Homo sapiens: one gene and its partners. The protein of the gene in region 1 purifies or fractionates together with the protein of each later gene. This does not show direct contact. Each region holds a gene or a part of one and is shown in the gene's direction. Other genes may lie near its edges.

Region 1 (4,245 bases):
TACTTTTTATTTTAGATATAATTAGATCTTAAAGTCTTCATAGAAGGTTGCATTTCAGTATGTAGTTTTGGTTTGTTAAGAAATATTAAGAACTATAGTAGCTAGGATGCTATGTCTGTTCTTTAGCTTTAGAACTGCTTAATAGCATTATTGTTGCCATTAAACTCATTCTTTCTGATAGTTTAAAATTTAGTACTCTCAAATTGAGTGTGCCAAACCAAATTCCTAAGCATTTTAATCTCTGATCACAAATTGCTTTGCATTTCTTGGTTTTCTCAGTTAATATGTTGATCTGTTATTTTTGCTTGAGTCATTCAGTTATCTTGTAAAAACCATGTTTGGTTCTCTGTAAATAACTATTGGTAATAAGAACATGTCGTTCTTCAGTACCCTCATCTCCCTACTTGTAACAGGCTGAAAGAAGTCCTAGCTGTAAAATATGTTCTGTAACATAAGAGAATGATATTTTGCATCAATTCTTAGGTGTGTCGTTTGGACTGGTGATGAGCGGGTCTTCTTTTATAATCCCACCACTCGTCTTTCTATGTGGGACCGACCTGATGATCTGATTGGCAGGGCAGATGTTGACAAAATTATTCAGGAGCCCCCTCATAAAAAAGGAATGGAGGAATTGAAGAAACTAAGTAAGTTTTAAATTAGGAATTTATCCACTGATTTTAACATTCTTTTCATATTTTGATAGAAAATGTGGAAGGCATTTAGAAACCCTTTATTTTTCAAAGAATATAAGAAGCATTCGAAAAAAATAGACTGCTATCCTAGTTTGAATGAAATAATAGAGATTAAAAATATGGAGAGAATTTGGATAAGATTGTGCTTTGTAAAATATGTGTGTCTTTAATTTATTGTCCTACTCAAGATTTTCAGTTAGTCCAAGATATGGTTGGTAGTGTTGCTGCTTGCTTAGTGCTTATCAATACTACTAAAATGCTCCTCGGTGGGCCTTTTAGCACCTTTTGTGACTAGTAATATATTTCTTGAAATAATACATTACAAATTTTTTAAAAATACAAAATCTCAATCTTTTGAATTAGATGGTAAGCTCCTTATATTCCTGAGACTAGACACCTAAACCTTACTAAGAGATTATCTTTTAATCTATCTCATATTCAGAGGGCATACTAATATATTGAGTACAGATATTTGTACGTAATTTTTGTTGTGTATTTCTTATTGGTAATTTGCCCTTGTGTTGATATGATTGTGTTTTTATAGAACTGTGGCCCGCAAGTGGTATAGAAGCAAGATAAATGAATTATTTAATGCTTCTAATGAAATAAATCCTAGTGTGTATCATTTATAGTCATTGAGACATTTTCATGCATTATATATATGCTGAATTATAAGTAATTTCTGAGTCAGTGCCGCTTTGCCTATCTAGTGCTGAAGGTACTAGGCTCACCTTCAGCAATACTTGTTTTATAGGTATGATAATAATACTTTATAACTATGGTATTGAATGATGTTGAAACAATATGTGATTTTCTTTTGTTTTTCGTGAATTTGTTTTTAAATATTTGATTCATTCATTTGATAAATACATTAACGTGCATTGTTAAAAGGTACTGTAAATCCTGAATCAAGAAAGCTTTATTTTATATATTTGTAAATTTAAGGTTTGGGCAAGAAACATTTCAAAATGAATTAAATTTAATGTAAAGGGAGGATAAATAGAGGAAGTGTAGAATTATGCTTTGTTTAATGTTTTATAAAGGGATGAATATTAAGAGGTGAATATATTATGTAAACAGTAATTTTTAAAAAGAAAAGTTTGTGAAATATATGCAAATGACTTTGTAACAATATTTGAAATGTTTTTGCCAGGGCACCCAACTCCGACAATGCTGTCGATCCAAAAGTGGCAATTCTCTATGAGTGCAAGTGAGTGAACTAACCATAAATTGCAGCTTCTTTTTAATACTATTAAAGCAAGTGTTCTGGTAGTGATTAGCAGAAGGATTCATTCCTAAATATTTTAATTAAATTTTGTCTTATAGTTAAAGAGGAACAAGAATTAATGGAAGAAATTAATGAAGATGAGCCTGTTAAAGCAAAAAAACGGAAGTAAGTAATACATACGATTTGATTGAGGTAGATTATATCTTTTAAAAGTCGATTTGGTAATAATTTGTGATTGGAAGGGACAGGTAATGTGAATGTTGTTAGGAGGCATGATTGCTCTCTTAGGCCTGATAATAAATAGCTTTGTTTTTCATTGTAGAAAATGTGTCCCTTCTTTTGCTAGATTTGTAGAAGATTTGGGTATTCATATATGTATTATGACTCCAAATGATAGTTTTGGAATTAATTCTTTTTGGAAATTTATTAGGTCTCAATTTTATGAAAAGTTAGTTTCCTCCCTCATTTAGACCCCAATGGATACCATTCCAGAGATCTCATAAAAACAGACACAGACTTCTCCCTCTTTATATGGTTATCTTACGACTTACCTAGTCCTTGAGTCTGGTCATTAACTCCTTGGTGAGGAGAGAACCCATAAGCTTAGGAAGTGCTCTGCGAGAAAGAGACTGCTAAGAAGTAGAGGCATTAGCTTGGCCAGTGCTCTAGAGTTGGGTAAAATGTAAATGTTATGGCGGGGGGAAGGATGGGGTAGAGGGTATGCATGTATGGGGAATGGGACCATTATTTAGCAGCAAAAAGGAAAGTTTGAAGACATTAACAGGAACTGGTTAATTGTAGTCCTTATCTGAAAAGGACAGATTGAATGCAGCCAAATTATGGCAAAGAAATCAGTAGGACAACCCCTATAAAGGGTAGTTCTTTTAAAAAAAATTTCTTTATTGGCAACAACATAAAAGATATGAAAGAATCACTCATAATTTATCAGCGTAACATAGCTATTCTCATTTTTGCAATTGACTTTTTAGTTCTTGACCAAATGTAATTTTTATTAGTTGTGATTAACTGATTTTGTGCTTTTTTTTTAAAAAAAAAAAACCTAGAATAAGACATTTGTTTTGTTAATTATTATAAATGACTGTATTCATTCTGTTTATGTACCATAATTTTGGATGTTCCTACGATGTTAAACTTTTAGGTTGTTTTTAATTGTTTGTTCTTATAGACAACTCTGTAAGGTTTTTAACTGCTTTTATCAGGAGAATGTCAAAGAAGTCCTTTATGTGGATTGCCCGAGCTTCTCTATTTAGGTACAAAGCTAAAAGCCTGTTTTTCCTGGCTTAGTTTTTCTTTTATTTCCTTTATTGAGATAGATAGTGATAGTTTGTATTGTGACATTTTCATTTAGTATAGTTCTATAAAGGTTATTTGTTTTTATTAGTTACTTCTTGGATGTCTTTTAACTCTAACTATTTAAATAGTTTTAAAATTATTATTATAAGAGGGTATATTGTTTGGCAAATTGCTTTTACCTGTTTGTTTTGTGCATATCTTAGGTCACAGACTATCTCGCTAAGTTCCTGCAGGTCACGGACTATGTCTTCTATTTCTTTTGATTCATTGCCTAAGTTGCTAAGTACCTCTCACTTGCATTTGTGGGTTAGCCTTAGTTCCATTTAAATCTCTGGGGCTACCTACAGTTTCCTGTATAGCATGCTTTTGAATTTCCACATGTTCTGTTTTCCTAATTCCCTTAAGTTTGTATAGGGAATAAGAGCCAATTTTTAAAATATACTTAGCAGATCATATTTAAGAAGGAAGATCTGCTAAAATACACCCAGATATTATTGAATTACATACTTTTTTGGATTATTTACGTGAATGGGCCTTTTTCATAGTGCATATATTTGAGAGGTGCCGTGATTCCATGTTTACAATTTCACTTGAGTACCACACAGAAACAGGGTTGCCCTTACACCTGAGGTGCATTTTTGGAGGAACAAGAAGTAGTTTAGTCATTGATGAACAGTTCTAATTCCACCTAACTACTCCTGGGCCCATGTTGCTCTCTGGGACCTGTCCTTCAACTTAAATCTCAACTTATCACCCAGAAAGTGAGTAATAAAAAGTCAGGTAGGTAAGGTATATATCTTACATATTCACTTGGCCAAGATTGCAGATATTTTAGTTTTATTTTTAAAATGAATGTTTGAGATTACTAAAACATTATACCACTTAATACCAATTTTTATTAGATTTTACAAAATATTTTATGTGTTTATAATGTAAAACATTTTGGAAAATACTGTTTTTTCTATATTTCAAGAACTAAAAAAATTATATTTTGTGCTGTTTGATTCTGAC
Region 2 (4,245 bases), on another chromosome or scaffold:
CCTCCCGAGTAGCTGGGATTACAGGCGCCTGCCACCACGCCCAGCTAATTTTTGTATTTTTAGTAGAGACGGGGTTTCACCATGTTGGCCAGGCTGGTCTCAAACTCCTGACCTAAGATAATCCACCTGCCTCGGCCTCCCAAAGTGCTGGGATTACAGACGTGAGCCACCGTGCCTGGCCTAATTTTTGTATGTTTATTAGAGACAGGTTTCCACCATGTTGGCCAGGCTGGTCTTGAACTCCTGACCTCAGGTGATCTGCCCGCCTCGGCCCCCCAAGGTGTTGGGATTACAGGTGTGAGCCACCGCGCCCAGCCAAAAGTTAAAAAGACTTGCAGAGTTAAGTTTTTATATGTACGTATACATATACATGGACTAGAGAAGAATCTTCCCCTAATTTTGTCCTGAAGATAGTGAGAAAATAGGATTGGACATGTTAAAAAAAGAGCTTTTCAGGACATCACTTTTATACTATCACATCATCTAAACTTGAATATGTCCCTCCCCTTCCCCTTCCCCTTCCCTTGCCGAGACAGGGTCTCCCGCTGTTACCCCCGGCTGGAGTGTAGTGGTGCAATCATGGCTTACTGTACCCTTGACCTCCTGGAGCCAGACTGTCTTCTTTCTGCATAGCTGGGACCGCAGTTGTGCACCAACATACCTGGCTAATTTTTTGTATTTTTTTTGTAGGGACACGGTTTTGCCATGTTACCCAGGCTGGTCTCAAGACTCCTGGATTCAAGCACTCAGCTCACCTCAGCCTCCCAAACTGCTGGGACTGCAGGCATGAGCCACCATGGCCAGTCTGCTTGAATATGTGTCTCGAATGATATTTCTTTGAGGGTCATTCTCTACAAGTCTGTCAAGAATTAGTTGGTGGTGGTAGATTTCCAAAAAGGTCAATTTTTTAAAAGTTGGAAATGACAAGAGATAGTTCTAATCTCTTTACTGAGGAAACCTCTCAGAGGGAATGATTAGCCAGGGAAGGATTTGTTTGCAGAGGTGCTGTGCCCATTAAGCATGGTGAGAGCCGCTTTCTCAATGGTGAGTCATGTGATGTGGATTAACCCCAAACCAAATGCTCAGCTTCTGTGGTTAGATTGGATAGTTTATTCGTAGCCATGGTATGCACCTGTGGAATATAGGTTAGACACTTTGTTACCTGCTTTGGCTGTAATTATTTATTTATACATTTCGTAGTTTATAGGTGAGCTTAAGCAGTCTGGTGAAAGACTGGAAATAATTCATCATGGACTCTGTCAGAATGTTTTTTATTGTAAATCTTAAAGTATTTGGGACTTCAAAAGTAACAATATTAAAATTCATTTCCATCTGTGAATCCTCTGGTGGACCATGATGTGTAGATTCTGTTATGTTTTATGATTTTTTCTAACACAGTCGTCGTCATTTTCCAGGAAAGAGTAGGAGATGATTTGGCAGATAGATTTTGTTTGGCAGACTTTGGTGAAGGACTTTCTTTTGGAGTAGACAAGTGGCCTGGGTAACAGTTGTAGGTCTCCTGTGGGACCTGCTTTGTGGTGTGAAGCCAGTCTTGTGGACTCAGGTAGATTGCGTTCTAGGCATCTAGGGATTGGAGCTGCCATAACATCACCTTATCTGCCAGCCCGTGGGAAGGGAAGCCTGTTGATTGTGTATTGGTATAGTTGAGAGATCACAGAGGAAGCTGCTTTCCTTGGTTTTACCTTGTGTTGATTTGGGTGTGGCTCACACCAGTGATACCTCTGCTGGGATACCACTTGGCACTCTTGTGTTTGGGGACTACACAAAGTTGCTGACTTTAAAATTTTTCCAAGTAAATACGTTACTATTTTTGAGACAGGGTCTTGCTTTGTCAACCAGGCTGGAGTGCAGTGGTGCAATCATAGTTCACTGCAATCTTGACCTCCTGGACTGGAGCCATCCTCTCAGCTCAGCCTCCTGAGTAGCTGGGACTACAGGTGCACAACACCACACTCAGATAATTATTATTATTTTTAAAAATAAAGACAGGGTCTTATTTGTCGAACTCTTGGGTTTAAGTAAGATTCTCCTGCCTTGACCTCCCAAAGTGCTGGGATTATAGGTGTGAGCCACCATACCTGGTCTCAAGTGAATACTTTTGTTTGTTTGTTTGGAGACAGAGTCTCATTATGTCACTCAGGCTGGAGTGCAGTGGTGCGGTCTCAGCTCACTGCAACCTCCGCCCCCCGGGTTCAAGCGATTCTCCTGCCTCAGCCTCCTGAGAGGTGGGATTGCAGGCATGTGCCACCACGCCCAGCTAATTTTTGTATTTTTAGTAGAGATGGAGTTTCAGCATGTTGGCCAGGCTGGTCTTGAACTCCTGACCTCAAGTGATACACCTGCCTGAGCCTCCCAAAGTGCTGGGATTACAGATGGGAGTTACCACACCTGGCCTCAACTAAATAACATTTTAAAATAGTAGCTTCTCCAGCTACTATCTGGTGTTTCTTCCACGGAAGAAAGTTACATCCCAGAATAAAGATCGGCTCTTCAGTTAAAGATACTTTTATAAATCATTAATACTGTAGTCTTGGCTTTTTGGTTTTTTTTCCGGTTTTGTCATGGATTACAAATTCTGTAGTAGAGCCCGTGGTCTGGGAGTCACTGGATTCTCACTGGCGGGACACACAGGGCTGGGGAAGCAGAAGGTGCAAGGCTCAGTTGCTTAAGAAACTTGAGGTGGCTTCTGGCTCCTCACTTGTTCCTGATCAGCTCTAATCTGTGCCTCCCTGTAGTCAGAGGGGTTGCGCTTGAGCTGGCAGCTGAGGAAAGCGCCCTGTCAGCCAGTGCCCGGGCTTCCAAGCCTGATGGCTGCTACCTAGAGATGGTTAGTGTTAACAGTGTGGTGGCACCTAGCACACAAAGGTAAAGAGTGCAATGGGAAGGCCGTGCCAGAAAAGCAGCCACCCTTCTTTGCCAAAGGTGGGATTGTCTGCATGCTGTCTTCCACCTCCCAGGGTTGCTCAGACCCAAGTTTCCCAGCTTCAAAGTAGTAGGATTGTGTAGGGAGTGGTTTCTTTTCCACCTTTCTGGATTTTTAAAAAGTGGTTAAAATATACATAAAATAGACCATTTTAACCATCTTAAGTGTGCAGTGAAGTATGATGTTTTGCAGCAATCTGCACATTCCTGGAACTTTTATTCTCATCCCACATGAAATTCTATGCTCAGTATTTAATAACTTCCCATTTCTACCTCCCCCTAGGCCCAGGTAACCTCTGTTCTACTTTCTGTGTATGGATTTGCTTATTATAGGTATTTAATAAGTGGAATCATACAATATTTGGCCTTCAGTGACTGGCTTATTTCACTGAGCATAATGCCCTCAAGGTTCATGCATGTTGTAGCCTTTGTCAGGATTTCCTTCCTTTTTGTGGCTGAATAATATCCCATTGCATGGATAGTCCGTGTTTTGTTTATTCCATTCATCTATTGGTAGACACTTGGTTGTTTCTACCTTTTGGCTTGTGTGAGTAGTGCTGCTATGAACATTGGCATATGTGTATGAGTCCCTGCTTTTAATTCTTTTGGGTGTATACCTAGCAGTGGAATTGCTGGGTCATAGTAATTCTGTGTTTAATTTTGAGTGACTACCTAACTTTTCCATGGCGGCTGCATCATTTTATGCCCCCCCCCCCTTTTTTTTTTTAACACTATGAAAGACACTTATTTGTGAAGCTAAAATTGGATGGGCCTATGTGTACTACCTCATATTTCCATTCTATGAAGTCTTAGAAATCATCCCTCTCTTCTCCTGTTTCTGTCTTGGAATTAACACACCTTGGTCAGGGAGTTGGCCTCACCATTGTCTCTGTTACTGTCCGTAGGAGTATTTTGTGAGCCCAGGAAGGTGTACCTTTCCTTGGGAATGCTTTCTGCCCTGTGGAGCCTTGAGTTTGAATGTCTTAATTCAAAACCAACATTAGTCTTGTCTTTGCTTTTTTTGAGACAGGGTCTCGCTCTGTCACCCTAGGCTGGAGTGCAGTAGGGTGATCATAGTTTGCTGGAGCCTCGAACTCCCGAGTTTAAGTGATCCTCCCATCTCACCCTCCCTACTAGCTAGTACTGCAAGTGCACCACCACACCTGGCTAAGTTTTATATATATTTTTTTGTTGTTTTGACAGGGTCTTGCTATGTTGCCCAGGCTAGTCTTGAACTCCTGGCCTCAAATGATCCCCCCTTCTTGGCTTCCCAAAGTGCTAGGATTACAGGTGTGAGCCACC
Region 3 (4,245 bases), on another chromosome or scaffold:
CCAGATTCAAGAAGTGGGCTCTACTTCTCAATGAGAGAATGTAGAAGAGCATATGGAATGGAAGATGCTGTCTCAGCCATCTTTGGAAAATATAACATGCCACAATTATTCTGTCTTCAGTGTCAGGCACATAATGAATGCCAATACATACTGAATGAATACCAAGCACTATGGTTTATGTTTGTTTTGAGATAGAGTCTCACTGTATCACCCAGGCTGGAGTGCAGTAGTTCAAACATGGCTTCCTTTAGCCATGACCTCCTAGGCTTAAGGGATACTCCCACCTCAGTCTCCTGAGAGTAGCTGGGACCACAGGTACATGCCACCATGCTAGCTGATTTTTTTATTTCGTAGAGTTGGGATCTTGCTGTGTTGACCAGGCTGGTCTTGAACGTCTGGACTCAAGCAGTCCTCCTGCCTCAGCCTCCCAAAGTGCTGAGATTATAGGCATGAGCCACCATGCTCGGCCTCACTATAGTATTTTCACAAACATTTCTCTCAAGTAATTTTTTTTTTTTTTTTTGACGGAGTCTCGCTCTGTTGCCTAGGCCGGAGTGCAGTGGCGGAACTCAGCTCACTGCAACCTCCACCTTCCAGGTTCAAACGATTCTCCTGCTTCAGCCTCCTGAATAGTGGGGATTACAGCACCTGCCACCACGCCTGGCTAATTTTTGTATTTTTAGTAGAGACAGGGTTTCACGATCTTGGCCAGGCTGGTCTTGAACCCCTGACCTCGCAATCTGCCCACCTCGGCCTCCCAAAGTGCTGGGAGTACAGGCTTGAGCCACCGTGCCTGGCCTCATACTGTTTTTTTTTAGCATTATTTCAGGCTATGTCATACAACAGTAAACCTGACAGACAGGGTCCCTCCCCTGGTTGATTTAAACAAGATAATTTCAGACTGTGAAAATGCTGTGAAATAATTAAGTTGGGTTAGAGAAAGCGGTATGGGCAATACACTGTACTCATCCTGGGGAACATTATGGGTGGAACTGATCAGGAGGGAAGATTAATGAATTAAAATGGGAAGCTATAATTAATCATGTGTAGGAAGTGTATCTTGTAAGAAGTCATATATGTTGTTATTATTATTATTTTTTTTTTTTTTGAGACAGCTCTGTTGCCCAGGCTGGAGTACAATGGTGCAATCTCGGCTCACTGCAACCTCCGCCTTTAGAATTCAAGCAATTCTCCTGCCTCAGCCTCCCGAGTAGCTGGGACTACAGGCACATGCCACCACGCCTGGCTAACTTCTTGTATGTTTAGTAGAGATGGGGTTTCACCATGCTGGCCAGCTGGTCTTGAACTCCTGACCTCGTGATCCGCCTGCCTCGGCCTCCTAACATGCTGGGATTACAGGCATGAGCCACTGTGCCCAGCCTGTTGTCATTCTTATTTAAGAATATTTTATATTTTGTTTATTAAAAAATATTTGGCTTAGGCTGGGCGCGGTGACTAATGCCTGTAATCCTAGCACTTTGGGAGGCCGAGGAGGGCAGATTGCCTGAGCTCAGGAGTTTGAGACCAGGCTCAAGCTATCCTCCTGCTTCTGCCTCCCTGAGAGCTGGGATTACAGGCGTGAGCCACCACACCTGGCGCTACTGAAATACAAAAATACTAAAATACAAAAAATTAGCCAGCGTGTGCCTGTAGTCCCAGCTACTTGGGAGGCTGAGGCAGGAAAATCACTTGAACCTAGGAGGCAGACATGGCAGTGAGCTGAGATCGCGCCACTGCACTCCAGCCTGGCGACAGAGCGATACTCTATCTCCAAAAAAACAGAAAAGTTTGGCTTAAATTAGATAAAACATGTTTTAAAGACTCAAAAAGTAGGCAGGAATTCTTTCCTTTTTTTTTTTTTTTTTTTTTTTTGAGATAGGATTTTGCTCTTGTTGTCCAGGCTGGAGTGTGATGGCACGATCCCAGCTCACTGCAACCTCTGTCTCCCAGGTTCAAGCGATTCTCCTGCTTCAGCCTCCCGAGTAACTGGGATTACGGGCATGCGCCACCATGTGCCCGGCTAATTTTGTATTTTTAATAGAGACGAGGTTTCTCTATGTTGGTTAGGCTGGTCTCAAACTCTCAACCTCAGGTGATCTGCCTGCCTTGGCCTCCCAAAGTGCTGGGATTACAGGTGTGAGCCACCGCACCCAGCCACAAGAATTGTTTTTTAAAATAAGAGTTTGCTTTGCATTTTCTGTTAATATAAGAGAGAAGAACTGGGGTCAATTTGGGGAGACAAGTGCATAGAGGACAATGACTGATGATATGGGCAGGACTATTAGTTGTGGATAAAAGATAGTGCATTTGGCCAGCAAGCTTGCAAGCATTTTGGGCATGGTACCTGCCTATCATGTCTTCCTTTAGCATGGTCCAAACTAGCATCAATAAACCAAAATGTTTGTGGATCTGTTAGCTCATTTATCCTTCTAACACAATTGTTGTAATGGAAAGAAACATTAGAGGGCAAAGAGGAGGAATCAGCAAAAATCCTGACTAGGGCACCTTTTTGTACTCAAGGTGTTAACAGTCTAGAGGGGATGCGTCATATGTAAAATAAATAGTTAGAAGGCAGGGTGATATGTGCTGTAATAATAGATATGGGATAAAATTTGTTAGAGCTTGGATGGCAGAAGCTCATTGTCTAGGCATGATGGCTCACTCCTGTAATCCTAGCATTTTGAGAGGCCAAGGCAGGAGGATCACTTGAGCGCAGGGGTTCGAGGTCAGGCTGGGAGATATAACAAAAGCCTGTTTCTACCAGGAAGAAAAAATAATAACCAGGCATGGTAGCATGCACCTGTGGTCCTGTTTACTTAGGAGGCTGAGGAAGGAGGATGGCTTGAGCCCAGGAATTCAAGGTTATAGAGAGCTGCGCCACTGCACTTCAGCCTGGGCGACAGAGTGAGACTCTATCTCTTAAAAAAAAGATGTGCCCTGGTGACCTGATGGTGTTGGGGAAGGGTTCATACTTCATAGAGGAGGTGACAACTGAGCTGCTGTCTTGATGAGAAATTAGGTAGTTGAGGCCTGAGAAGAGCCTTCTAGGCAGAAGGAAGGGCATATACAAAGGAATAAAGAGAATTGTAGAATGTTTCATTAAGGATGAAGATAGTGTAGGTATGATGGGGAATGGTCAGAGATACAGAGCCCAGAACAAGAAGGGTCTTACCTGTCATTGCTAGAGATTTGAAGTTGATCCTTAGGGGATGAGAAGCTACTGAAAGCTTTGTTACACTTTTTTTTTTCTCCTCCCTTTTTGTGGAACATGGGGTCTCGCTATATTGCCCAGTCAGGTCTTGAACTCCTGTGCTCAAGCTATCCTCCTGCTTCTGCCTCCCTGAGAGCTGGGATTACAGGCGTGAGCCACCACACCTGGCGCTACTGAAAGCTTTATAACAAGGAATTATGTTTCAGACAAGACTCTCTAGCAACCTTTTCAACATCAACAGTGACTAATAGGCATTGCAAATTTAATATGCCCCCAAACCTAACTCCTGACTTCTCCCCTCAACACCTGCTTTTCCTGCTTTTCCCCCATCTCAGTGAATTACAGCTTCCTTCTTTGGGTTGCCTAGTCCAGTCATTTTTGACTCTTCTTTCTCTTACACTTCAACACAGTATATCAGCAAATCCTGTTGTTTCTCACTTTAAAATATACCCAGAATTCATCCACTAATTACTACCTGCACTGCTACTGCCCCAAACTGAGCTACCAGTCATCTCTAGGCTGGGTTATTGCAATAGCCTAACTGGTCTTGCTTCCTCCCTTGCCCCTCTACAGTATATCATCCACATAACCTTCTCAGATCCTTCTGAAAGGTGAGATCACATTACCTCTGCTCTCAACTTTCTAATGGCTTCTTAAAGTCCTGTGGTAGCCACAAAGCCCTATGTGCCTGGCACTCTGCCCTCTCTCCCCTACTACCGTCCTTATTCCACTACAGCACACTGGCCTTTCTGTTCCTTGGATCTTGCTGACCTTCCTGCCTCAGAACCTTGGTATTTGCTGGACTCTCTGCCTAGAACATTGTTTCCCAAGATATCCACCTTGCTGGCTCCCTCCCTCCCTGCAGGGCTCTGCTAATGAGGCCTTCCCTAATCACCTTATATAAAATAGCAAAACTTCTCAGGCACCCTCTGTCCTCCTTAACTTACTTAACTTTGTTTCCATAGACTTACTGTCATCTGAGATTATATATTATATGTTTATTGTGTGTCTCCTTTCTAGAATGTAAGCTCTAA
Region 4 (4,245 bases), on another chromosome or scaffold:
TGATGGGGCCTTTCCACTTCACAGGCAGATGGCGGCTCCCTTCAGTTCCTTCCCATTTCTCCTTCGTGAGGTGCCCGTGGGGCCCTGACGTGGGAGCGGTGGAAAGCAGCTCCCTGCTCTTTAGTGCTCCCCCACGTCCAACTCACCCTGGACCCCTTGTCTCTGCTGTGACCATCCTTCCAGTTCCCAACCAACTTAGGCATTTGCATTGCAGGATTGTGGGTTTTGTCTGTGCTAATTGTGCTCTGACTGGCTAAAGTTTTTTATATATATTCTAGTCACAGGAAGAATTTTATTGACTGTTTTCCATTTTTATTGTGAAGACCTATGTAAAAGCCTTATACTAGACATGAAAATAACTTATATTCATTTAATGTAAAATGAAATACTTGCCATATACTAACAGTTGAGTGCTGCGGTCCCTTCCAGAGCCAAAGCAAAGAGTCGGCTGAAATGTCATTTGCTGTCTCACAGGGCTAAACTTGAGGAAAAAAGGAAAAAGGAAGAAGAGAAACGGTTAAGAGAAGAAGAGAAGGTAGAGTGTTTCCCACAGAGCTTCCCCGTCCCAGCCCGTTGGAGAAGCAGATGCCCAAAGTGGAATTCTTGCCACAGCCGTCACCTAATATTCTCTTGGTTTGGGGAAACCAAATGGCGCCCGCAGGGAGGGCGAGTCTGTCTAGATGCGTTCTTGTTGCTTCTTCCCAGTGCTGGCTGTCACATGCCTACTGGCCCTGCAATCCTGGCACTTCTACCCACAAGGGCAACTTGGACATTTTGAGATTGGCTGGCTCAGTTGCGGGTCCGTGGGTTTTGAGAGCTGAAAATCACAGTAGTGCCTTCAAGCTAAAATGCTTGACGTTCGGTTCTGGGGGCCTTTGCATGTTTTGCAACACATACTGTTCCTCTTCCTCTCCTCTTTCTCATCACCATCTCTTAACATCACAGCGCATTAAAGCAGAGAAGGCCGAAATCACGAGGTTCTTCCAGAAACCAAAGACTCCACAGGCCCCCAAGGTGAGCAGCCGGCTGCCTTTGCTTTTGGGTTTCAGCTCTGCTAGACTTTTCCTTTCTGAAAGTGAAAGGGTCTCTCCCCAGCCAGCTTCTCTCATTAGGAGGGAGGGAGCCTCCAGTGACCTAGGGCACTTCCATTTCTGGTTAAGTCTTGAGGCTCAATATTTTGTCCTTCGCTTTGTCCCAAAGAGGTAAAAAGTGGCATGTCTGATTAAACAGTGCTGTTTTCAGAGGTTACTTCATGAATAATTTTGTGTTAGGCGTAAGAGAAATTCACCATGTTTTTACCCTTGGGAAACTTAGGCTTAAGGAGGGAGCACGTTTAGCTGTAAAACAACAGTACAATTCACAAAGGTTTACTTTCCCTGCCTGGCGTCGGTCACCTGGCATCTCAGACCTTCTGAGCCACCATCTGTGCATGGAAACCACAGCCCTCCTTCCCCTTTACCCAGAGGGAGCCCATCTCCAATGTTAGGGGTCCTTCAGTGCCTTTCCCTGCTCCACTCACTGTATTTATACACATGTGTACTTAGCTATCTCAGATTTGTGCCATGTTGCCACATTTAGATGTATTTCATTCTTTTTAATGTATCTGGCCTTTATTTATTTTTTGAGGCAGGGTCTCACTGTCACCCAGGCTGTAGTGCAGTTGCACAATCAAAGCTCACCACAGCCTTGACCTCTCAGGGTCTGGTGATCCTGTCACCTCAGCCTTCCCGAGTAGCTGGGACTACAGGCATGTGCCACCATGCCTGGCTAATTTTTTATTTTTATTTTTTTTGAGATGGAGTCTCACTCTGTCACCCAGGCTGCAGTACAGTGGTGCGATCTCAGCTCACTGCAACGTCCACCTCCCGGGTTCCAGTGATTCTTCTGTGTCAGCCTCCCAGGTAGCTGGGATTACAGGCACATGCTACCACACCTGGCTAATTTTTGTATTTTTAGTATAGACGGGGTTTTACCATGTTGGCTAGGCTGGTCTTGAACTCCTGACCTCAGGTGATCCGCCCGCCTCAGCCTCCCGAAGTGCCGGGATTATAGGCGTGAGCCACCGTGCCCGGCCTAATTTTTTAATTTTTTTTTGTAGAGACTGGGTTTTGCTATGTTGCCCAGGCTGGTCTCGACGACCTGGCTTCAAATGATCCTCCAAACCTCGGCCTCTCAAAGCACTTGGATTACAGGTGTGAGTCCCTGCACCTGGCCTGTCCTTTTATTTGTATGTTGAGACATTTGATGGCAATTGTGTATCCTGAAGGTGCACAATGTGACATTGTTGTACCTACACATCATATTGTGACAGCCAGAGATCCACATCATGTATTTTCACTGCCGCATAATACTTCATAATGCAATGATATGGTTTCTCTCTTTTTTTACAAAAATTATTTATTTATTTAGAGACGGAGTATTGCTCTGTCACCCATGCTGGAGAGCAGTGGCGCTATCTCTCGGCTCACTCTAACCTTTGTCTCCCGGGTTCAAGCAATTCTTCTACCTCAGCCTCCCGAGTAGCTGGGATTACAGGTGCCTGCCACCACTCCCAGCTAATTTTTTGTGTTTTTAGTAGAGACGGGGTTTCACCATATTGGCCAGGCTGGTCTTGAACTCCTGACCTCAGATGATCTGCCCATCTCAGCCTCCCTAATTTTATTTTTAGTAGAGACTGGGTCTCACTGTGTTGCCAGGGCTGGTCTCGACCTCCTGGTCTCAAGCATTTCTCTCGCTTTGGCCACCCACCGTGCTAGGATCACAGGCATGAGCCACAGAGCCTGCCACTATCTCAACCTCTTTGCCCCTCAGTGGTGTAGGGGGGGTCCCTGCACATGCTTCTCTGCACACATGCATTCCTCTGGGACAGCCAAGTAAGCATGAGTTCACCTCTAGGACAAAATAGCATATTGCTGAAGCATCATGAGCCATGGCCAGAGTGCGTGCCAGATGGGAAACTCAGATGTACATTCCCGGCGATGTGTGGAAATTTCCTCCCCATTCTCTGCTATCACTGCAATTTTTATGGGATTAATTTTCTTTTAACTTTGCCAGTCTGATGGATTTTTAAAAATTGACATTGTTTTACTTTCCATTTTTACTTGACTCTTGGTGCAGTTGAGCATCTTTTTCTGTTCGTTTGCCATTTTAGTTCTTCTATGACTTGCCAATTCCTATTTTTTTACCTATTTTTCTACAGGATTTTCTTTTTTTTTCTTTGCCTGATCTGTAAGTTTTTTTTAACATAGTCTAGTATTTCATTCTCCGTGATATTTCGTCTCAGCCTGTTACCTCTTTGTTTACAGTCTTTTTTTTTTTTTTTTTTGAGACACAGTTTCACTCTGTTGCTGAGGCTGGAGTGCAGTGGTGCCATCTCGGCTCACTGCAAGCTCCACCTCCTGGGTTCACACCATTCTCCTGCCTCAGCCTCCCGAGTAGCTGGGACTACAAGCGCCCGCCACCATGCCCCGCTAATTTTTTGTATTTTTAGTAGAGACGGGGTTTGCACCGTGTTGGCCAGGATGGTCTCGATCTCCTGACCTTGTGATCCGCCCGCCTCGGCCTCCCAAAGGGCTGGGATTACAGGTGTGAGCCACCGTGCCCGGCCTTTGTTGTTTTTTGTTTGTTTGTTTTGAGACAAAGTTTCGCTCATTGCCCAGGCTGGAGTGCAGTGGCATGATCTCAGCTCACCACAACCTCTGCCTCCTGCGTTCAAATGATTCTCTTGCCTCAGCCTCCCGAGTAGCTGAGATTACAGGCATGTGCTGCCACGCCCAGCTAATTTTGTATTTTTAGTAGAGACGGGGTTTTTCCATGTTGGTCAGGCTTGTCTTGAACTACTGACCTCAGGTGATCCGCCTACCTCGGCCTCCCAAAGTGCTGGGATTACAGGTGTGAGCCACCACGCCCAGCTACAGTGTCTTTCATTATACTGAAATTTCTCCTTTTGGCCAGGTGCGGTGGCTTATGCCTGTAATCTCAGCATTTGGGGAGGCCAAGGCGGGTGAATCATCTGAGGTCAGGAGCTTGAGACCAGCCTGGCCAACAAGGTGTCTCTACTAAAAATACTAAAAATACAAAAATTAGCCGGGCGTGGTGGTAGGCGTCTGTAATCCCAGCTGCTCATGAGGCTGAGGCAGGAGAATCGCCCAACCCAGGAGGCAGAGGTTGCAGTGAGCCGAGATTGCACCACTGTACTCCAGGCTGCGCAATGAAGCGAGACTCCATCTCAGAAAAAAAAAAGAG
Region 5 (4,715 bases), on another chromosome or scaffold:
TCCAGCCTTGGTGACAGAGCGAGACTCTCAAAAAAAAAAGTCAGATCCAGGCATGAGCTGGATATGATCACCCTAATCCAGAGTTGGGGGCCCAGGGAGGGAGTTTCAGCCTGGAGGTGACAGAAAAGTCTTCTTGAGCCAACTCTAGACCGGTGTGGTGGGGGGTGACAAAGAGAGGTGATGGGGTCTGTGGTTTGTAATCCATAGGCCTGAGCTTCTCAAACTAGGAGTGATGGGAGGATAGGACTCTTGGGATAAACAGAGGACTGAAAATTTAGGGAAAGTAGGGGACATTTTTATTAAAATGAACATGGCCTATATGCAAAAATTTTAAAGATTTAACCCGAGCCTTCAAAGAAAGTGATCCTGTAGGGGCGAGTCTCTTCTAGCCAAGCTCCCCAAAGCCCAGAAATGAGGGACTAGGTCTGAGCCCTTCAGCCCTTCAGAGTATTTTGGTAAGACAGTCTAAGAACCACTGCCTTGGGCCATAGGGAGCCATAGCAGGTTCTAGGCAGAAAGAGGGCAGGCGTATTTGTTAGAAAGTTTCTCTGACCCCGTGTTGGGGTCAGAACCAGAGGGAGAAAGGCTGGGGACAGGGATGGGCGGAGGGATCCACGCGCAGAGAATGAGATTGCTTAACTCCAGATCATGGTGAGGCTGCACCTCTGAAACTGGAATGTGTGTATTTCTGGAAAACATTTGGAGTCTTCAGTTTCCCAAAAGCTGCCATTGATCTCCCTAGAGTACTGGGGACCCCAATAAGCCCAAAACAGCTGGTCCTCAGGACGAGGGAAAGATGTGAAAATCCCACTATCAGGTAGCATGGATGGCGTGGTGCATGCTATCGCAACCCCTGTTCTACAGATAAGGAAACTGATGCCCAGAGAGAGACGGAGGACTCTTGTGAATATTGGGGGGGACCGCCCCTGCACCTCGGGGACGTGACCCCCCCCCCAGGCTGACCCGTTCCTCGCTCTGTCGTCCCCAGGTGGAGGAGGAGCTGACGCACCTCCAGAAGAAACTAAAAGGGACAGAGGACGAGCTGGATAAATATTCCGAGGACCTGAAGGACGCGCAGGAGAAGCTGGAGCTCACGGAGAAGAAGGCCTCCGACGTACGTGTGCAGGGATGCGGGAGCCCGCGGCGGGGCCAGGCCGGAGCCCCGGGGCCGGGAAGGCGGGGAGAGCCGCAGGGGGAGGAGGAAGAGGAGGAGGAGAAGGCGGCGCCTCCCAGCGCTTTCTCCAAATAAGTCCCGAAAAGGGGCACTTTCCAGCAGCTGTGGCCAGCGGTGCCGACGTCAGGCCCTCCCCCAGCGGTGCTGACGTCGGCGGTCCGGCCGGGTGACCTCATCGCCCCGACGGCAGCCGGCCCGGGGGGCGGGGAGAGGCGGGGGCGGCCCCCGCGCAGGCAAAGGCTTGGGGGGCCGGGGCGCGGCTGTGCAGCTCTCGCCGGAGCCGAGCCCAGCCGAGCGTCCGCCGCTGCCCGTGCGCCTCTGCGCCTCCGCGCCATGGCCGGCCTCAACTCCCTGGAGGCGGTGAAACGCAAGATCCAGGCCCTGCAGCAGCAGGCGGACGAGGCGGAAGACCGCGCGCAGGGCCTGCAGCGGGAGCTGGACGGCGAGCGCGAGCGGCGCGAGAAAGTGAGCGCCCCGGCCTCGGGCCCCGCACCCGCAGCCTCCTCCCCCGCGCGCCCTCCTTTCTTCCCGGCTTCCCGCGCTGCCCGCCCGCGCGCAGTCCTCGGGCCGCCTTTTTACGCCCTCGGACGCCGATCGCCGACCCACATCCCTGCGCCCGCAGCCAGGACCCCCTACTTCCTCCGCCGTCCTCCTTCCTGGGCCTGGGACAGGGGAGGGGGCGCCGCCTCCGGGTCGGGCGGGGCCGGCCAAGCGGGAAATGGGGGGATGGGGCGGAGGGGGTGAGCGATCTCCGGGTGGAGAAGTGGAGCGGCGGGAGGGGGCGTATCGTGCAGGCTCCGACTCCGGGGCTGGCGCCGGGGTCCCGGGCCGAGGGGAACCCGCGACCGGACTTGTGGGGGAGAATGAGGATGAAAACGTGGAGCTTCCATTGTCTAGGGTTTGACCGGCCGACAGGGATTTCGACGGGGGACCGGGGATCTGGGGAGGGGGTCGCACTTTCTCGCCTCTTTCGCGGCTTCCCGGCTTCTGCTTGCTTCCCTGACCGTTCCCAGGGGCGCGGCGGCGACGTGTCTGCTCCAGGCGGCGGGGGGGATGGGGGGTGGAGGAAGTTCAGCCCCAAGCCGCCCGCCTTTCTCCAGCTGATTCCTGCGGGAACCGGGGCGGCGGGACCCTGCCTCTCTCCAGAAGGCCCCGGGAACGCTGGCGCGGGGCCCTGAACCCACGATCGTTTGAGCGCCTGCTGTGCGCCTCCGCCGCGAGTCGCAGGGCCCGAGATAAACAATGGGTCTGAAAAAGGAGGGAGTTTCACCATCCTCTCTGCATCATCCTCCTGGCTGTCCCTCGGGACAGATGGTGGCACCGCCAGGGTCTGGGGACAGATTTGGATTCTGGTCCCATATCATGCCACCCACAGGCTTCATGACTTGGTATTTGCTCTCTAGGAGCTTTTTTCCCATCTGCGAGTAGGACTGATAAGAATCCCGACCCCCCAGAGTAGCAGGGAGGGTCCCAGGAGTAAATCTCAGGCGTGGAGCCTGGCGCTTTGTAAATAATCAATTGTGTTGTTGTTTTTTGTTGTTTTGTTTTTGAGGCAGTCTCACTCTGTCGCCCAGGCTGGAGTGCAGTGGTGCGATCTCGGCTCGCTGCAACCTCCACCCCCCGAGTTCAAGAGATTCTCCTGCTTCAGCCTCCCGAGTAGCTGGGATTACAGGTGCCCGCCACCACGCCCAGCTAATTTTTTTTTTTTTATTTTGGATTTTTAGTAGAGACAGTGTCTCACCATGCTGGCCAGGCTGGTCTCGAACTCCTGACCTCGTGATCTGCCCACCTTGGCCTCCCAAAGTTCTGGGATTACAAGCGTGAGCCACGGCGCCCAGCCTCAATTGTGTTTTCTCTGCCCTGGGAAGAGCTCATAGACAAATGGAGGCAGGGGAGCTGACTCACTGATGGAGCGAGGTCTGCATTCCACGGGTTTTCTGTGCAGTTATGGGAGCATGACAGGGGAGGCTCCAAAATGGAGGTTGAGCTGGGTCTTATAGAATAAATAAGTTTGCTGGGACCAGAGACATGGGTGTGCACAGACTCAGAGGCAAGAAAGTTGTATGATGAGGGTGGGGGGGTGTGCGGATAGAGGTTGAAGCCCAAAAGCCCTGAAAGTTCAGTGTTGAGGCTCAGGGTGGGGACCCTAGAGAGGCAAAAGATGCCCAGCCAGATGGAATTGGTGGTGTGAATTGCCAGGACTGGAAAGAGCCCAGATGGGGGCTGCAGCATGGGCCTTGGTTGAAGCCTCTAATCCTGTAAGGGCTGCTTTGGCCCAAGAGGCCTTAGAAACCCGGTGTAAGCCTCAATCGGTAGCCGGTCTGGCCTCTTTCTCACACTTAACCGACACAGCTCTTGCTCTGATCTCATCCCAAGTCATCTCGCTGGAGGACAATTAACTCGGCTTCAAAATGGCCCTCAGCCTGGAGCCAAGATTTAGGAGCAAGACCGTCTAGTTGGGAGAGAAGATGTTTTTGGAGAGTTGAAGACTTCTTGAAAAAGTTCGAAAAGTTCTTGAAAAAGCAAAGGATGCTTCTTTCCGTCTGGGAGAGGGAAAACCTCTCCCAGGGCAAAAGGAACTAAGACCAGGGGTGGGTTAAAAAAAAAAAAAAAAAAACCTTTCACTCTTGTAGAATAAGCCAGGAGCCGGCGTGTGGTAGACTTCTGGGCCTGTTTCCCGACAGCTGGTTTCGTTTAGATTTTTGTGTGATTAACTGACATCTTCCTGTTCCTTTGCCACATGTATCTAGCAAGCCTCTTTTACCTTATAAGGGAAATCCTTTGTAGCGTGTGGAAGGCTTTGATTGCAGGAAGGGGTGGAACCCAAAATGACTCGGCCGTGACTAGCAGTTTTTCAAAAATACATATATATGTATGCATGTACAGATATGCGTGTATCTCCCAACTCCAGACAGCTGAAAATCTGCCAAAAGCGTTGTTTGCCAGGATTCAGAATTTCCCACATAAGGGCTACTCACTTCTTAAAAGACAACTCATGAATCAAGCACCTCTGTTTGATCTTTAAAATCAATTCCTCGACTGCTAATGGGTACACAGTTTTTTGTTTGTTTGTTTGTCTTTGGCGGGTTATGAAAATGTCCTGGAATTCGATAATGGTGTTGGTTGCAGAGTGTTTTTGCAACATCAGTTCCTGGCCCAGTTACTGAAGGTGGTAGGAGGAGTTAAGATCTAGGCAATTAAAAAGAATGAAAGGCACCCATTCATGGGAAGGCCTCAGTGACGTTTCTTAAGACAGTTTCATCAGTGGTTTTCACAATTCTCTGCATTTGGTGTTTCAGAGGACACTGCAATACGAAACACCTGTGGGAGTGCCCTCTTTCTGCTTCTAGGAATCTGAGGCTGAGAAACCTTCCTGACTCTATTTGTGTAGTTTTTCGGCCACGTTAGCCTCATTCTATTTTTTTTTCCCCCAGTATGAACTCAGGGCAGGAGAGGGAGTGGTTTCCTAATAATTTTTTTTTTTTGAGACGGAATCTTGCTCTGTTACCCAGGCTGGAGTGCAGTGGCGCGATCTCGGCTC
Region 6 (4,245 bases), on another chromosome or scaffold:
CTGTTTTTTAGTTGGGGACGATGGCGAGATATTTTATCTCATGGACGCTTCAAGCGACGTATGACTGAACGAGATGTGGAGACCATTTGTCGGGCCATTCTCGTGTACTGTCTTCTACACTACCGTGGGGATGAAAATATTAAAGGCTTCATCTGGGACTTGATTAGCCCAGCTGAAAATGGCAAGACAAAAGAATTGCAGAATCATTCAGGTAATTATCAACTCTTTACTTTATGTTTTTCTATAGGTTAATCTAATCCTTTTCAGGTCCAAGGGTTTTTCTCAATCCAAGTCTTTGATGTCTCCCCTTTCCCAGGTCTATCTATCCCTGTGCCTCGTGGACGCAAAGGAAAAAAAGTAAAGTCACAAAGCACTTTTGATATCCATAAGGCAGATTGGATCCGGAAATATAACCCTGACACTTTGTTCCAAGATGAAAGTTATAAGAAGCACTTGAAACATCAGTGTAACAAGTAAGCATAGAATTAGCAGACATTTTCCACCTCAAACTTCTACAGTGTTACTGAGCCAGCTCTTCCTCTGTCCTTTCTAGGGTACTGTTGCGGGTACGAATGCTATACTACCTGAGGCAGGAGGTTATTGGAGACCAAGCAGAAAAGGTGTTAGGGGGTGCGATTGCCAGGTAAAATTCTGCTATATTTTTTTGATTTATGCCCTACCTTATTTGAGGGAAGATTGGTTTGCTTATTTCATTTTATGCTATCTTTGGGATACCTGATAATTTAAATCTATATATCAGGTCTTTAATCTTATACTTGACACTAGTGGGAGGAAATAGGGTAGATGCATGAGTATTTAAATTAATGGATACAGGAAGATACCTATAATAACCTTTGCAAGGATTCTCACTTTAATTTCCTGCATTTCTGTGCTGACTCTGCCCTCTTATACCTTTAGTGAGATTGACATATGGTTCCCAGTAGTGGATCAACTGGAGGTTCCAACAACTTGGTGGGACAGTGAGGCTGACAAGTCGCTGCTCATTGGAGTCTTTAAACATGGTACGTATCTTCTCCTATTCTACTCCTTTCCGACTGAAGATTTATGTTCACGGATGGAACATTTAGCAAAATGCTCCTGAGAAATAACTCAGTTATCTGATTGATCTTCAATAAATTTGAGTAGGAAAGTAGTTCTTAAATATCCAGAGCAGAGCAGTTAGTTCCTATAAATAGATGTTCAAGAAGGGCCAGATGGATAGGTAAATCTCAAGGTAGGGAGCCTCCCATCTGTTCTCTAATCACTGTTAGCAGTGTGTTACCGCACTGTATGCTATGGTAAGTTAGGGTCCCATGAATCAGGGCAGGTAATATACCCCAACTATTGTTAATAATAATCACACTTAATTTATATGACTTTCCTCTGGATGTGCACTAGCATAACAATTGCAGCAGATCATCTTGTCGCAGTTGTATTTCTGGGTGAGTAGGCAGAGGGAAGGCTCAATAATGTCACCTCAGAGGCAAAGCACCACCTGCAGGGTGGACTCTTTCTGGATGTTACAGTCTGAAAGAGTACGGCCATCCTCCAACTGTTTGTTCACAAATATCAGATGCTGCTGGTCAGGTGGGATGCCCTCCTTGTCGTGGATCTTGGCTTTGACATTTTCACTGGTGTCACTCGGCTGGACCTCAAGGGTGATGGTTTTGCCTGTGAGGGTCTTTACAGAGATCTGCATCTCTATGTCAGCTTGGCTGCCTCACTAAAGAGAAAGAGCTGAAAATCTTCTGTTTTTCTACATGTCCCATTTGTCTAAATGTTCAGCAGTCTCTCTGATATAGGTATGAGGCAGCAGTTTTTGAGTGAAATAAAAGTAGAGTATAAGAAGGGAGACTGACTAGCCAAAACAAAAATGCAGTGGGGGTAAGAATATTTCCTTACTCTTATAGCAGTTTTGCCTAATGCCAAATCCCAGGCACTAAAAACAGTAAGCGTTAACTTTCAGCCAAGTGACTTTGTGAATTAGAATGTCTTTTTTTTAAAAGAATACTTTTTTTTCTATAAAATAAAAGTAATGGCACTTAATCTACATCTTTTTTGAGACGTTTAATGGGATAAATAAAATTGCAGGTGCTGGGCATGGTGGCTTATGCCTGTAATCCCAGCACTTTGGGTGGCCAAGGTGTGCAGATCAGGAGATTGAGACTATCCTGGCTAACACGGTGAAACGCCGGCTCTACTAAAAAATATAAAAAATTAGCTGGGCGTGGTGGTGGGCACCTGTAGTCCCAGCTACTCAGGAGGCTGAGGCAGGAGAATGGCGTGAACCTGGAAGGCAGAGCTTGCAGTGAGCCAAGATCGCACCACTGCACTCCAGCCTGGGCGACAGAGTGAGACTCCATCTCAAAAAATAAATAAATAAATAAAAATAAATAAAACTGCAGGCAAGGCATGGTGGCTTACACCTGGAATCCCAACACTTTGGGAGCCTAAGGCTATCAGTCACTAGTTAAAAACTCTTCATGATTCTAAATTGCTATAAAAATGTTAAATATAGTAATAAACCCAGTAGTTGTCCAAGATAACATTCTAACTTTGTTTTCCATTATGAGCAATATAGAACATATTCTAATTATTCCAGCAGCATATAAAGTAAGCATAAAGGCAAAACAAATCTCATTTTCTTCAACTATGACCCTTTTTCTTCTAGGCTATGAGAAATATAATACCATGAGGGCAGACCCAGCCTTATGTTTCCTAGAAAAGGCTGGCCGACCAGATGACAAAGCAATTGCAGCAGAACATCGAGTGTTGGATAACTTCTCTGACATAGTAGAAGGGTAAGCATTAGTATTTGTTCTTTTAAAACTCTAACTTGTGCCGTGAAATAACTCTAGCCTTGACTGAACCCAATGGGATTCTTAATTGTAATTATACTCAAAAGTGATAGATCCTTAGCAAAAATAGGACCAGCAGAAAGGACTCCATAAACTGCATAAACCACATGTTGCCATAAGATACATCTGAGGGTGAAAATGAATGTCACTTGTAAATGGCTTATTTGATGTTCTATTTGGTTTGGTTTACAACACTCTTCTGTACAGCTACAGTAGCTGAGAGGATAACTGGTCTCTTGAAAGATAACAGCCAGCAGCTCTCATACGTTGCTTCTGTGGAAGAGCCTTAGGCGCTTTCAGCCCTGGTTTATCATCTCCCAATGGTACCTGACACATAAAGGTACTTATTTTGCCTGAAAACATGTCCCAATGATGAGTTGCCATGCTAATACTGAGCCACCAGGTAGGGCAGTGTTGCCCTGGTTTGGGTGCCAGTGAGTTTAACAAAACTTCTCACATGAAGATCTGAGGGGCATGTGAAACAGTTGGCTTAATGAATACCTCCCCATTCCATCATGACTGAGAAATTTCTCTTTGACGATCACACCCTCAGTTTGCCTAGTGTAGGACCCTCAAAGGAAATTGGGTTATTTATTCATTGCAAATCGTTTATGCCACCTGTCTGCTCAGAAGAACACAGTAATAAAAACAAAAAAGCGTGAACCATACAAATGAAATAATAAAAAGTAAATAGTTGGGTAGGAGGAAGAATTACATAATAAAAGTCAAGAAAAAGGAACTGTGTTGATCAAAGTGTTTCAAATTCAAGCAATTACGAATGGTACATTGTCAATTTCTTATAATTATTTGTATTCCATTGGATGCTATACCAGACTGACCCAAAGTTTTGCACCTGGCCTGCCATTCCTGTAAACACGAAATTAAATACTAGGCCAGGCACTGTGGCTCATGCCTGTAATCCCAGCCCTTTGGGAGGCCACAGTGGGTGGATCACAAGGTCATCAGTTCGAGACCAGCATGGCAAATAAGGTGAAACCCCGTCTGTACTAAAAATACAAAAAAAATTAGCCAGGAGTGGTGGCGCATGCCTGTAATCCCAGCTACTTGGGAGGCTGAGGCAGGAGAAACACTTGAACCCAGGAGGCGGAGGTTGCAGTGAGCCGAGATGGCACTGCTGCACTCCAGGTGATGGAACAAGACTCCATCTCAAAAAATAAATAAATAAATAAATAAATAAAAGACTAGGCCAGGATGGGATCACTTGAGCCCAAGAGTTTGAGACCAACCTGAGCAACATGGTGAAACCCCATCTCTACTAACAATACAAAAATTAGCCTGGCATGGTGGTGGGTATGTGTAGATCCCAGCTACTCAGGAGGCTGAGGCAGGAGAATCGCTTGAACCCGGGAGGCACAGGTTGCAGTGA
Region 7 (4,160 bases), on another chromosome or scaffold:
CTTGCCCAGAATTGCCTGCCAGCTGATGTGCATGTCCCTCCCATTGAGGAGCAGGGTTTTCCTGTTTGGGGCAGCATTTGAGATGCATTTCTGGTCAGATGGGAGTGCCCAGTGCCCGAGGGTCAGGCCTCCTGGCCAGTTGTTTCCACACTGATGACCCAGGCAGCCTGGCATCCTGTGACCCCCTCAGAAGAGACCACTTATGCACCCTGAGTCCTCCCCAAGGCACCAGACGCCCAGGTTCACAAGTGGGGATCAGAGATGCAGAATTTACTTTCTTTCCACAAGTTAAGGTCATTTTTGGGAGACTCGAATGTCAATTACGTCACCCTAGGAAGTGACTAGCACGAACTAAGTGCTCTGCTGTGTTCTGGTGCCACTGGCCGTGATGAGGCAGTGGGAGGCCGCGCGTTACAGATGCTGCTCAGAGGGCACAGTGAGGACCACTGCAGCCTACAGCACGGGTTCCAAACCGCCACTTGGTTCCAGACGCCTGCAGAGAGGGCAGCCAAGTCATTCTCCGGGTTTCTCCAGCAGGGCTGCTTCACGTTTGACCCAGAAATGGCGCCTGCATGTAGAGAAATGCCGGGCCGTGTGGGCACCCAGGTTTAATTATTCAGACTGCTTGGATCCTTGAGAGCTATGCTGAAAGGCTGTTGCTCATAACTCCAGCAGCTGTAAACAAGAACAGCTTTTGCCATAGATTCTTGCTGCTTTCTCATGTTGTGCTTGGAATACAAGATTTCATTTCTGATATGCAATTTCATGATGTTTTTCTTCTGTATCTGTGTTTTAAGATATTTGAACAGTTTGTCAAGACAAGAATAAAAGAAGAATACAAGGAAAAGAAAAGTAAATTGCTGCTAGCCAAAGAAGAATTCAAGAAACTTCTAGAGGAATCTAAAGTGTCTCCCAGGTATGGAGAGAGAAATATACCGGATGATTTCTGGGGCTGGGAACTTACCAATGACAAGAGGACTCTTCAGGTTTGTTTTTGTTAAATCGTGTAACCCAGCCTTCCACAGACACGAAAGTGTGAGCTTTGAAGACCTGCCAGTGAGACCAGCCTGGCTCCCCTCTATCATGCTGCCTGTCATGAGCCTCCAAATGTCCCTCTCATCAGTCCTGGGAAAGTGGGCTATTTGCTAACCAAATGCATCACAACCATTTTATTCCTACCCTGCATGCATTTCAAACGTCAGCAGCCCTGACTGACCCAAATAACCAATCAATACGTGAGCACTCATGAGATGAGGTCTAGTTTCTGATCTAATGATCAAGAAGCAAAAATGCAAAGCTGACTACAAACAACAGCACCATAACCCCTACCACACCCCTTGGTTCCAGATGTCTTAACAGTTGGTCCCAGAGTAAAATGAAGATTTGATACACCGGACAAGTGAACTGAGTTAACTAGGTTGCCAAAACTTACTAAAATAATAAATGAGGCATTATTTCCATGAAATAAGACACACTTACAAGAAAATAGATGTTAGAAATTGGAAGAATACATAAGCTTAACTCTTTCTTAAAAATTAGCTTTAATTGACTGATCTTTAAAAAGTAATGAACATGGGCCGGGCGCGGTGGCTCACGCCTATAATCCCAGCACTTTGGGAGACCAAGGCAGGTGGATCACGAGGTCAGGAGATCGAGACCATCCTGGCTAACACGGTGAAACCCTGTCTCTACTAAAAATACAAAAAATTAGCCGGGCGTGGTGGTGGGTGCCTGTAGTCCCAGCTGCTTGGGAGACTGAGGCAGGAGAATGGCGTAAACCTGGGAGGCGGAGCTTGCAGTGAGCCTTGATTGCACCACTGCACTCCAACCTGGGCGACAGAGTGAGTCTCCGTCTCAAAGAATAAAGAAATAAATAAAAAGTAATGAACATGTACTACTTTTAGAACTATAAAACTGTAAGTTTCGTAAGCATAAAAATGGTTAACAATGTATTTTTATTTTAGACTGGAAGATGCAGCATCAGTTTTTTGTTTGTTTCTTTTTTTTTTTTTTTTTTTTTTGAGACAGACCCTCGCTGTGTCACCCAGGCTGTGGTGCAATGGCACGATCTTGGTTCACTGTAACCTTTGCCTCCGGGGTTCAAGCAATTCTCCCTGCTTCAACCTCTCAAGTAGCTGGGATAACAGGCACCCACTACCATGCACAGCTAATTTTTGTATTTTTAGTAGAGATGGGGTTTCACCATGTTGACCGGGCTGGTCTTGAACTCCTGACCTCAGGTGATCCACCCACCTCGACCTCCCAAAGTACTTGGATTACAGGCGTGAGACACCATGCCCAGCCAGAATCAGTTTTTTCTTTCTTTTTTTTTTTTTTTGAGATGGAGTCGCTCTGTTGCCCAGGCTGGAGTGCAATGATGCAATCTCGGCTCACTGCAAGCTCCGCCTCCTGGGTACATGCCAAGTAGCTGGGACTACAGGTGCCCACCACCACACCCGGCTAATTTTTGTATTTTTAGTAGAGAAGTAGAGACGGGGTTTCACCATGTTAGCCAGGATGGTCTGGATCTCCTGATCTTGTGATCCACCCGCCTTGGCCTCCCAAAGTGCTGGGATTACAGGCATGAGCCACCGCGCCTGGCCTGCATCGGTTTTTAAATGGACATTAATTGATGCTTTCTATGAAGGCATAGGCCCCCTTTGTTTGACCTGTGATTTGGTTGATCAAGAATTAGGTGACCTAAGTTAGTGCTAGTTACACAATCCTCATAAAACTTCTCTAGCTATTCTAAGGACAGGTACTTTCTGAATAGGGAAAAAATAGCATGAATTATCTTCATCACAAGTGCTAATGTAGACAAGGAAATGTGTGTCCTGTTGCCTGCAACTTGTGATTTTCCATTGTTAAAGCAGTCATGAGAATGCTGGGTTCTAGCCATGGCTTAGCTGTGTCCACCCACCAGGTGGCCTTGGGACAGAGGCGGAGGAGGCAAGGGCTCTGGAAAGGTGCTGGAGCCCCTTCTCTGCCTTGGTTCACAGCCTGGCCCTGGCCCATCTTCTCCTGGCCATGGGGTAAGTATTGGACCTTCCTGTGCTCCCGAGCCCTCCTCCAAATGGGAGGATGACCACACACACCTCAGAAAGTGACGAGGAGGATGGCGTGAGGAGTTGCAGGGAGGGACCCCGACGGTGCCTGGCAGGCAGGAGGAGCTCCGAAAGTGGTAGCTGTCATTACTGCTATTGAGACCATCATTACTGTTAAAGACATCTGGCCAGCATTCTCTATTGATAAACTAGCAGCAATAAGCCACATACTCCCCTTCCCATGAATACATCATGAAGACAACGGAAAAAATATTCGGAATGCATTGAGCCATTTAAAAAAGATGACATACACACATACACGCACACAGAAGGAAAACGAGTGGTAGAAATTAGAAGGGAGTTAAACGGACTCTTTTTAAAATGAGAGTTAATTGCCTGCTATTTTTTAAAATAAATTTTATTGTATATATTTAAACTATACAACATAATGTTATAGGGCACATAGAGATAAGATGCTTACTATAATGTAGCAAATTATTTTAAAATTTACACTGGGATATATTGCTTTGATAATTATAAAGCTATTTTTTTCATTTTAAAAGTAGCTAAGTTTTCAACATTTCAAAAACTTTTTCCAGATCTTCTGTATACTTTTCTGTAGGCATCCTAGTGAAACATGTACAATTCAAATGACCACATGCTGGAGAGCCAGGCGCGTCCCCATGCAGGCGACGTGGGCCTCTTAGAAGCAGCCTCCTGAGGCTGTGTAGCCTCCTGCAGCCATACAGTCCCGTCCTGGTCGCCCGTCTCAGCCTCGGTCCTGAGCAGCCTGTGGGAATGGTGGCGACGGGACAGTCCAGAACACTCCTGGACAGCCCCTAGCCCCAGCCCTGCCCGCCTCTCGGGAGAGCAGCTACCGGGGACTGGGTCCTAGCCAGGTGGGGTTGGCCGCCCGGTGGGGTTGACGCCCGGTGGGGTTGGCCGTCCGGTGGGGTTGGCCGCCCGGTGGGGTTGACACCCGGTGGGGTTGGCCGCCCGGTGGGGTTAGCCGCCCAGTGTTCCTTCCTGAGAGCTGCAGCAGCCGCCTCCTTCATGGCAGGCTGGCCCGAGTCCCACTTAGCAGAGGGAGAGCAGAGATCCAGGGCCTGTGAATCA

What was found.
Region 2: the proteins of TCERG1 (region 1) and HNRNPM purify together in Homo sapiens (affinity purification with mass spectrometry; 2 studies listed by BioGRID, with this or other methods). This does not show direct contact.
Region 3: the proteins of TCERG1 (region 1) and POLD3 purify together in Homo sapiens (tandem affinity purification; one large-scale study listed by IntAct). This does not show direct contact.
Region 4: the proteins of TCERG1 (region 1) and CHAF1A purify together in Homo sapiens (affinity purification with mass spectrometry, with the first as the bait; one study listed by BioGRID). This does not show direct contact.
Region 5: the proteins of TCERG1 (region 1) and TPM4 purify together in Homo sapiens (affinity purification with mass spectrometry, with the first as the bait; one study listed by BioGRID). This does not show direct contact.
Region 6: the proteins of TCERG1 (region 1) and CHD8 purify together in Homo sapiens (affinity purification with mass spectrometry, with the first as the bait; one study listed by BioGRID). This does not show direct contact.
Region 7: the proteins of TCERG1 (region 1) and TCERG1L fractionate together in Homo sapiens (co-fractionation; one large-scale study listed by BioGRID). This does not show direct contact.

Annotation. Positions count from the first base shown.
Region 1 is NC_000005.10:146,478,010-146,482,254, forward strand, and holds part of TCERG1 (transcription elongation regulator 1), read left to right. Parts: intron 1-483; coding exon 484-644; intron 645-1,845; coding exon 1,846-1,902; intron 1,903-2,018; coding exon 2,019-2,085; exon of another isoform or gene 2,086-3,140; coding exon 3,141-3,191; exon of another isoform or gene 3,192-3,437; coding exon of another isoform or gene 3,438-3,561; exon of another isoform or gene 3,562-4,245. UniProt on the Homo sapiens protein: Transcription factor that binds RNA polymerase II and inhibits the elongation of transcripts from target promoters. Regulates transcription elongation in a TATA box-dependent manner.
Region 2 is NC_000019.10:8,451,026-8,455,270, forward strand, and holds part of HNRNPM (heterogeneous nuclear ribonucleoprotein M), read left to right. Parts: intron 1-4,245. UniProt on the Homo sapiens protein: Pre-mRNA binding protein in vivo, binds avidly to poly(G) and poly(U) RNA homopolymers in vitro. Involved in splicing.
Region 3 is NC_000011.10:74,598,863-74,603,107, forward strand, and holds part of POLD3 (DNA polymerase delta subunit 3), read left to right. Parts: intron 1-4,245. UniProt on the Homo sapiens protein: Accessory component of both the DNA polymerase delta complex and the DNA polymerase zeta complex.
Region 4 is NC_000019.10:4,422,861-4,427,105, forward strand, and holds part of CHAF1A (chromatin assembly factor 1 subunit A), read left to right. Parts: intron 1-474; coding exon 475-535; intron 536-945; coding exon 946-1,014; intron 1,015-4,245. UniProt on the Homo sapiens protein: Acts as a component of the histone chaperone complex chromatin assembly factor 1 (CAF-1), which assembles histone octamers onto DNA during replication and repair.
Region 5 is NC_000019.10:16,075,059-16,079,773, forward strand, and holds the start of TPM4 (tropomyosin alpha-4 chain), read left to right. Parts: upstream 1-1,436; 5' UTR 1,437-1,507; coding exon 1,508-1,639; intron 1,640-1,957; exon of another isoform or gene 1,958-2,072; intron 2,073-4,715. UniProt on the Homo sapiens protein: Binds to actin filaments in muscle and non-muscle cells. Plays a central role, in association with the troponin complex, in the calcium dependent regulation of vertebrate striated muscle contraction.
Region 6 is NC_000014.9:21,396,379-21,400,623, reverse strand, and holds part of CHD8 (chromodomain-helicase-DNA-binding protein 8), read left to right. Parts: intron 1-11; coding exon 12-211; intron 212-316; coding exon 317-473; intron 474-553; coding exon 554-643; intron 644-918; coding exon 919-1,022; intron 1,023-2,671; coding exon 2,672-2,801; intron 2,802-3,222; exon of another isoform or gene 3,223-3,331; intron 3,332-4,245. UniProt on the Homo sapiens protein: ATP-dependent chromatin-remodeling factor, it slides nucleosomes along DNA; nucleosome sliding requires ATP. Acts as a transcription repressor by remodeling chromatin structure and recruiting histone H1 to target genes.
Region 7 is NC_000010.11:131,095,062-131,099,221, reverse strand, and holds part of TCERG1L (transcription elongation regulator 1-like protein), read left to right. Parts: intron 1-797; coding exon 798-916; intron 917-3,444; exon of another isoform or gene 3,445-3,834; intron 3,835-3,922; exon of another isoform or gene 3,923-4,004; intron 4,005-4,160.